Regions from separate parts of the Homo sapiens genome. Here region 2 is linked to region 1. The links come from fine-mapping of genetic effects on gene expression. A gene starts in region 1. The other region holds a variant in brackets. All regions are shown on one strand. Distances are between the middles of the regions.

What was found.
Region 2: its variant is fine-mapped to the expression of TOLLIP in whole blood (INTERVAL, PIP above 0.99).

The regions. Positions count from the first base shown.
Region 1 is chr11:1,307,489-1,311,736 of GRCh38, reverse strand. TOLLIP (toll interacting protein) reads left to right here and starts at 2,105. Exons shown (of 6, transcript NM_019009.4): 1 at 2,105-2,271. The coding sequence starts at 2,239. TOLLIP-DT (TOLLIP divergent transcript) reads right to left here and starts at 2,029. Exons shown (of 1, transcript NR_029409.1): 1 at 1,030-2,029. RefSeq lists silencers at 285-414, 1,940-2,649 and an enhancer at 948-1,709.
Region 2 is chr11:1,274,767-1,279,014 of GRCh38, reverse strand. It overlaps TOLLIP (toll interacting protein), which reads left to right. Exons shown (of 6, transcript NM_019009.4): 6 at 1,762-4,248. The coding sequence ends at 1,976. Among named protein-coding and RNA genes, the nearest start is that of MIR6744, 20 kb to the right of the region's middle. The variant G/T (reference allele first, on the strand shown) is at 2,170.

The DNA of each region.
Region 1 (4,248 bases):
CCCATAGGGGAATAATATTAAGGCAAGAGCTGAATCTAGTGTTTAGCGGAGGTCCTGGTGGGAGATACAGATTTTAGGATCATCAGCATATGGATGGCATTTAAAGGAATGGAACTGGATGAGCTCACTGAGGATGTAGATAGAAAAGATGTGCAAGGACTGAGCCCTGAGGTAAGGCACTCCGATGTTAAGGAGTCAAAGTGTTACCAGTGTGCCCTGGCATCTTGTAATCTCCCAGGATAGAAATAAAGAGAGATCAGCAGACATAGCAGCGAGGAGAAAGAGAAATCTTTATTTAGCTTGTGCACAAGGAAGTCAGCACCATGAAAGGAAAACGGTGGGGGGCCCCGCCGCCAGGGGGTGGCACGTGGGTTAGTTTCACAGGGAAGGGATTGGTCCAGGCATGGATAGGAGGGGTTTGTCTAGTGCTTCTCAGTAGCTTTGCATGCTTCTTCATGCATTGCATGCAACATTCACATTTTAAATCTCTACCCCTAGGTGTGATTTTTAGCGTGAAAATGAGGAAGGGGTAACAATAGTTGAAGTATAAGTCTAACTGCACATGTGGGGCCCGGGGAAGTCCCTAGGCCCCCAAAGCAGGAACTTGTGGTTAATAGCTTCTTGGGTCTTGTGCTGTGGATTGGCTGGATGTTAAGCTACAACTTGAGGAAGGGGCTTTCGTTCTTTTTCTCTACACCCCATCAAAACAGGCAAGCGGCCAGGCTGCCGGTTTTAAAAGGAGAGACTGGTAACCGAGACCCAAAGATGTGGTCTTTGGGATAAGAGGAAAGTGAGAGCACATGGTGTCCTGGATGGGGAGTGAAGAAAGCATGTGTAGCAAGAATGACTATCGATTTTGCTGTAGTTCCCGGAGGACGAGGACTGAGAACTGACCACTAACAATATAGAGATCACTGACAAAGAGTTTTTAGTGGAGTGGTTGTGTTACCGGAAAAGGGTCCTGATCCAGACCCCAAAAGAGGATTCGTGGATCTTGTGGAAGAAAGAATTCCAGGCCAGTCCACAGAGTAAAGTGAAAGCAAGTTTATTAAGGCAGTGAAGGAATAAAAGAATGGCTACTCCATAGAGCAGGGTGTTCCCAAAAGCACGAGGAGGAAGGCGTCCACCTGGGTACGCTTGTTTATATGTAAGATAAAAGCCAAAAAACATCACGGGGGAGACGTGCTGTACTACCTGGGCTCGTCAAAGGATTGCCAATCTTTGCATAACGCCTGTCCTCCGCAAGCATCTGTATCATTATCTTTAAAGCGAAACTTCAACTAAGAATGCTTCTTGTTCTTAAGATACCCGGACATCGGGACCTAAGTTCCGGGTCTGCTGCGTAAAAGTTTATTAACCTGTTCCCGTGACCGTAAACGCCCGACTCCTGGGGATGCAGCCAGCGGGGTTCAGCCTCAGTTTACCCAGCGCTGTTCGAGCTGGAGTCGCTCTGGTTGGAGCGCCTGACCGCGAGGGCCGAGGTCAGGCCGGACTGGGGTTCTCCGGAGCGAGCAGGAGAGGAGCGGGGCTCCTGCGGAGCGGCGCGGCGGGGAGGCCGAGGGCAGGGCGGGCTCGAGCTCGGGCTCTTCTGGCAGCGCCTCCATCCCCGTTCCGTTCACCCGGCAGCCGCCCCGTGGAGGAACCGCGCCCCATCTTTAGCCCTGTGAAACAGAAAGGCCCTTCCTCCGGCAGGCAGCTGAGGGAAAGATCGCCCTGCAGGGGATGTCGGGCCTGTCACTGCTTTGTTGCGGGCCACAGTTCCCTCCCTTCTCCGAGCGGGTCGCACGTCCGAAGGTCACCCCCGCCAGGTGGCTAGGCCCTGTCGCCACTCGACAGAGGACCGAGGAGGAACCAACCCACTGCCCAGACTGCAGCGCCGCCACGCTAGGGCCCGCGCCGACAACCGTCATGACTGGGCATGCGCAAACGGCCCCGCCGGGAGCCATTTCGCCGGGCTGCAGGGCTCGAGGAGAGAGCAGGTGCGCAGGCGCCGGGCGAGAGGCTGCGCCTGCCCTACCCTGGAGCGCGCGTGCGCGCGAGAGCCGGAAGGGGCGGTGCCTGGCGCGGCGCCTGCGCAGTGGGGCGGTGCCGGGGGCGGGGCGCGGCGGCTGTCAGCTGACTGTGGCGGCGGCGGCCTCGAGGTGACAACTGTCTCCGTCGCAGGCTCCGGCGGGGGCGCAGGAGGTCGCCCGGCGCGTCACTGTCGGGTCGGCGAGCCACGGGGGCCGCCGCAGCACCATGGCGACCACCGTCAGCACTCAGCGCGGGCCGGTGAGGCAGCCGGGCGAGGGTCGGGCGGGGGCGGTGACCTGCGGTTGCGGGCGGGGCCTTGGGTCAGGGCTACTGCTCAGCTGCGGCTGGCGGGCCGACTCCGCGGCTCTCCCGGGGCACGCGGGGCGCCTGGCCGGCCGGAGGGGAGCGGCGGCGTCCACACCTCGGGGCGGGGCGGGCCGGACGGACGCGCCCACGCTGCAGGAGGCTTGAGCTCACCGCCGTGCCGGGGCAGAGCTTTGGGGAGGCAGCCCCGGGGGAGGGGGCCTGCGCCCGTTGTGAGCCCCAGATGGAGGCGGGCCCCGTGCCCCATGGTGCCCCAGAGGGAGGCAGGCCCCGCTCCCCAATGGTCTCCAGATGGAGGAGGGCCCGGTGCCCAGATGGAGGCGGCCCCGAGCTCTGACTCCCGAATGGAGGAGGGCCCCGCACCCTAATGGTCCCCCAGGTGGAGGCGGGCCCTGAACCCTAATGGTCCCCTAGATGGATGCGGGCCCTGCTCCCTGATGGCCCCCCAGGTGGAGGCGGGTCCCGCACCCTGATGGCACCCTAGATGGAGGCGGGCCCCGCACCCTGATGGCCCCCCCAGGTGGAGGCGGGTCCCGCACCCTGATGGCCCCCCAGGTGGAGGCGGGCCTGCACTCTAGTTGGTCCCATAGATGATGGCTGTTTCCTCTTTCTCATTTACACAGAGTGAGGGCAGTGGTGACCACTTCTTGGGCCCAATTGTGTCCCCGGTTAGTGGCCACCGTGCAAAACCTCAGTTTCTTCATTTGCAAATGAGAGGATAGGCGCCAGGAACTTCAGAGAACCTTTCCTGCTCTGAATTCTCTCCTGAGAGTTGCCTGGCAGTTTCTTCTATAGCATTAATATTGCAGGAGAGCTGGTGTAGACTGACTCAGAGATGATGGGCTCCTGGCGTGAGTGGCCTCCTGGCTCACTGTTAGGGCCTTCTTGCATTGCTGTAAAGGAATACCGAGACTGGGTAATTTGTAAGAAAAGAGATTTAATTGGCTCCCGGTTCTGCAGGCTGTACAGGTAGCATGGTGCCGGCATCTGCTCCTGGGGAGGCCTCTGGAAGCTCCCAGTCATGGCGGAAGGCCAAGTGGGAGCTTACACGTCACATGGCGAAAGCAGCAAGAGAGTTGGGGGTGGGGAGGTGCCACACACTGTAATGACCAGATCTTGTGAGAACTCACTATCACCGGGACAGCACCAAGCCACGAGGGATCTGTCCCTGTGACCCACACACCCACCCTGCCAGGCCCCACCTCCAACATTGGGGATCATAATTCAGCGTGAGATTTGGCGGGGACACAGATTCAAACCGTGTCACTCACTGAGGCTGGGCTGGGGCAGGCTGTCGTGAGCGGTACAGTTTTTATCAACAGTGGCTCTGAACATGCCGTGGGTGGAAAAAGTCCTTTTTCACGATGCTCCAAGGTCCCTGCCCTCGCGCAGCCCAGTACTGGACGTGGTGGAGGGGTCACCAGGGCTCCCCACCCTTAACACTGTATCCACAAGTCCTGGTGTTTCTCCCGAGGAGATAATTCTTCAGGTAGAACATTTTTTCTGAGTTTAGAATGAAGCCCCAGGTTTTGGGCATAGCTGCTTTTTCTGAGGACTTTGAAGGAAACCTCCTGACACTTATGAGACTCAGGTGTGGAGCCTACGGGTCGGCAGAGGTCCTGGACGGCCTCTGATGGCAGCGTCTCTACCTCTTCATCTTTACTCCACCACAGTGAGTCCCCGCAAGTTGCCGTGGCAGCCAAGTGCTCCTTTCTGCCTAACAGGAGACTCAGAGCAACAAGGGAACCAGCACCCTGCTGTTGTGTCCTCCTGGAGAGCAGGGGGGCATGGTGGCCAGGCAGGATGGCCCCTTCCTTGCTGTGTGGTCTGGGAGACATCCTCTGCCTCCTGGGAACTTGTTCCTCATCTGGAACCCCACTGGGGTGTAGGACTGATTTTGAATGCATCAGG
Region 2 (4,248 bases), 33 kb after region 1:
ACGCTGTGGGGAGACGTGTGGGCAGGGACAGGCGATGGCCGAGCCCCATTCCTCTTGTTGCCATGCTGTGGGGAGCTGTATGGGCAGGGACAGGTGATGGCCAAGTTCCTGCCCGCCTGCCAGCCGGGGCGCCCAAAAAGCCACGGGGATCCCAGGGGTCCCTCCAGGACAGACAGCGCCCAAGCCTTTGTCTTGTTTGAGGAAGAAGAAAGGGTGGTGAGGGTGGCCACGTCCCCACCTGGCCATGGTTCGGTTCGTTTTCCGTCATTGCCGAAAGGCTGATGAGCATGGGGATGATGCTTCCCCAGTGAGGTGAGGTGTCCAGTGGCCAGGACAAGAGGCAGGTGTGGGTGTGGAGGAAAGGTGGGCCTGGCCCTGAGAGAGCCGAGAAGCAGAGGAGGCAGGGGTGGGTGTGGAGGAAGAGTCGGCCTGGCCTAGAAGGAGCCGGGAAGCGGTGGCCTTCCTTGCTGAGGAGTCCTGGCCTTTGCAGCAGGTGCAGGAGGCTTGGTGGCAAGCCCTGTCTGCTCCGTTTACACCCCTGCAGGTCTTGTTGCTGGTGTTGGTTCAGGCCAGGATTGAAGTGGCTTCTGCTGCCTTTAGGATCCTCCAAGTGTAGAAAGGAACAAAAGTCCTATCCTAAGATTGGGGCTCTAGCGCTCCAGTGATCCTAGCTGGGAGATGGTTCGTGCTTTTAAAGGTGAATGAACGGGTGAGCAGTGAACCCTTGCACTGCTGCAGCTGCTGCTGCAGGAGGAGCTCTGTGCCTCGCTGGTCGCCGAGCCCCGCGCACGCTGCCTGTGCTCTGTGCCTCACTGGTCGCTGAGCCCCGCGCACGCTGCCTGTGCTCAGGGCTGCTCGTGGTTTTAGGGAGCGGCCACCAGGCTGGGAGGCGAGTCTTAAGTCCGGCCACACGGTGCCTTCAGGGGTGTGTGTGCTGCAGTGGCTGAACCGCCGTGCGTCTCCTGCTCGATAGATTGCATCTCAGTGTGTCCTCCCGCATCAGACATGGGGCGAGGGGCCTGCGTAGCTGTGGGGTGGAGATGCCAGGAACCCTGGACGGTGGCCCCAGTGCACTGAGGGTCCACTGTACACCGCACCTGCTGCCCCACTTGTTTGAGTTTTGTGAGCATTTTCTTGGTGTAGTTTGTATGTGTGTGTGGGGTTGTCATTCTGGGCATCGGCTGCAGCTTTGCTGAGGTCTTCAGTGCCTGTGGTGATTGTTCCCCACCGGCACACAGTTTAGTGACACACTTGCCAAGCTGCAAAAGCATCTTCTAGAATGCCTGATAAAGGAAGAGGCTCAGACCGTGCAGTGTTTGGATCAGCGGGCGTGACATTCCGTGTAGTCCGTCCCCAGATGCAGAGGACTCTGTGAGCCCACTGGTCAGTGAAGACGAGCGTGTGCAGTGCAAATTCACGAGTTCTGAAGGGATCAAAACACCACCCCCAGCCTGCTAGTTATAAAACAGACTCGGGTGAGATTTGAAAGATCAAACTTTGATTTTTATATGGAAGGAAGATGAGTTAGTGAAGGAGGCGTCACAGAGGGCCCTGCCCACCTTCCCCGTGGCTGTGCCTGGGGTTGCTGTTTGGGGGTTTGCCTTTCCAGGGTGTCTTGCGGGACTGGTGTTTGCTGAGACCCGAGGTGGCCCCTTCCTCAGGGAGGCCGGTGGGATGCGTTGTTTTCTTCCTTCAGCAGGAGCTAGTGTGGCACTTCTGGAACTTTCCGACGTTTTTACCAAACTTGATCTTTGCTTCCAGGGATGCCCGCTGTCTGTAGCCCCGGCATGGTGCCCGTGGCCCTGCCCCCGGCCGCCGTGAACGCCCAGCCCCGCTGTAGCGAGGAGGACCTGAAAGCCATCCAGGACATGTTCCCCAACATGGACCAGGAGGTGATCCGCTCCGTGCTGGAAGCCCAGCGAGGGAACAAGGATGCCGCCATCAACTCCCTGCTGCAGATGGGGGAGGAGCCATAGAGCCTCTGCCTCGATGCCGTTTTGCCCCCGCTCTTTGGACACGCCGACCCGGCGCTCCCCAAGGAATGCTGTCCCAACAAGATTCCCGTGAAAGAGCACCCGTGTCGCCCCCTCCCGTGGACTTCTGTGCCGCCCCGTCCACACCTGTTCTTGGGTGCATGTGGGTTTTCGGTTCCTGGCGGTCCAGGACGGG[G/T]CGGGGGCTCCCCTCCCATCTCGTGCTGGGAGGTCTCAGCGCGCTCTCCTGTCCCTGGGACGTGCGTCTCTCCTTCTCATGCCGTTCTGGAAAATGCTCTTGCTGTAGAGAGCAGCTGCTTCTGCCAGGGTGTTGGAGGTGGTGGAGCGCCTTCCGATTCCATTCATGGCATTTTGTGATGTGATGTAATTGGAATAGAGCTGTTGATTTAAGGCACACACAATCCCTCACACTGTGGGTTTTTTTTAGAACTTCCCAGACGAAAACTCACGCCCTTGCCCTAACGCGCTTTGCTGTGAGCCTGGCCCCTGCCCAGGGCTTGGGTCTGGTGAGCTGAGCAGCTTCCTGTGGATGGTGTGGGGCCGGCCTCTGGCCTGGCTCACCTGGCCACTGTCCAGCCAGCCTTGTGACAGACTCCGGCCTGAAGGCAGAATGAACCCACACCTGGAGTGAGGAAGGGGGCCTGGCACGGTTGGCCAGGCTCTGCCTGATTGCCAGCCAGCGGGCATCTGAAGCCGGGTCCTTCGCCCGCCGGAGGCTGCCGTCCGTCTCTCCTGCTGCGCTCGTGCCAGCTCCGTGGGTGTCCTCCCAGGGAGCTTCTCTTCTCAACAGGCCTTGCGAGGCTGGGGTGAGAGGTGATAGAGGCAGCACTGTGCATGATTCCGAGAGGGTGTGGTGGCACTGCCAGCCGACTGCTGACAGCTTGGGAGCTGCTGTGCCCAGGACGTGGGTTCAGCGTGGGCGAGGAAAGCCTGGCGAGCGTGGCCCTGTAAAAGCTTTCTGAGGCGGGAGGCGCTCACTTACCTCTGACTGCCTGGGCGCTGCGTGTAGCATCTTGGCCTACAGGACAGATTTTAGGTGACACCTGGTTATGACAGTCAGAAATTTGAGAAGCTTCTCACAAGTGATGCACTTTAAATAATCTGCATGCCATTGAGACACCTGCATGTCTGGTGTTTGTGGTTCAAGTGTCTTGCCGCCGGCCTTCGGATGTAAACCCACTGATAACGGACAGAAAGAGAATGCCCACAAGTGGGTCTTCTGTGGAAGATGCAGAAGGAGGAAGTTAGTGCTTACATTTTAGTCTTTTTCTCCCTCAAAAAAATAGGTTAAGTTTCAGTGCCAGCTAGAAAATACTGCTTTCTGCCATCGATTGGGGGTGGTTTTTGTCAAATATACTGTTGATAAATATTTATTTTTGTAAACTTGAAGTGTGTGGTGGCCGTGGGGGAGGGACATGCTGGCAGCAGGCGCCTTCTTCAGCTGTGGGTCCTAAAGGCCTTTGATCCTTTGAAGAAGAAAGACATGGTATTTGTTCAGCAGACGCCGACCACTCAGACGGAGGGGCCCCTGGGATTCCCTGTCTCAGATGGCCTGGTCTTACGCCTGTGTAGATTTCTTCTCCATTGGGAATGAAGGTGTCAGGCGGGACTGGAACGTTCTAGATGGTATGTTCCGTGATATTAACAACTCTAACCCAGGACAGACCACAAGCCACACTCAGAGGCCTCACTGTGCTGGGGGCTTCGGTGTCCAGGCGCCCAGGTGTGGCCACCAGCACCGGTTTCTGCCTTCGCGTTGCTGGGGTGCAGTGAGACTGCCACACGCGTGCACATGTGGCTCTGTGGGTGTCTCCTAGAGAGGACGTGGCCCCTGCTGCCAGCCCTTGAGCAGCCCGTGTGGGGGCCCGAGGGACCCACACAGTGGGGGCCAGCCTCGCTGGAGGGAGAGCAACCCTTTGCCGATGACCACGCTTGCCGCCATCTCTTAGTTTTCTTTTTCACAAGCGCTTTATTTTTTTAATAGACAAATCACATTTTGCAAGGCCTTTAATTAAATAAGATTCTTCTTTCCTTCATTTTATGCTTTATTTCCTGTTTGAAGGCTTACTGTAGAAGTGGCTTACTGTAGAAGCAGCTTGCTGAGCCCCTCCGAGCGGTCCCCAGAATTAGCTGGTTCACAACCCCCACCCTCCCCCGCCCCCGCCTGTGTCAGGTGTGGATGAGGTCGTCACACTCAGAAGGACAGGCTTGTCTGCCAGCTCACAAGGGGAGGCTGCAGTGGGTTTGGGAGCTGGGT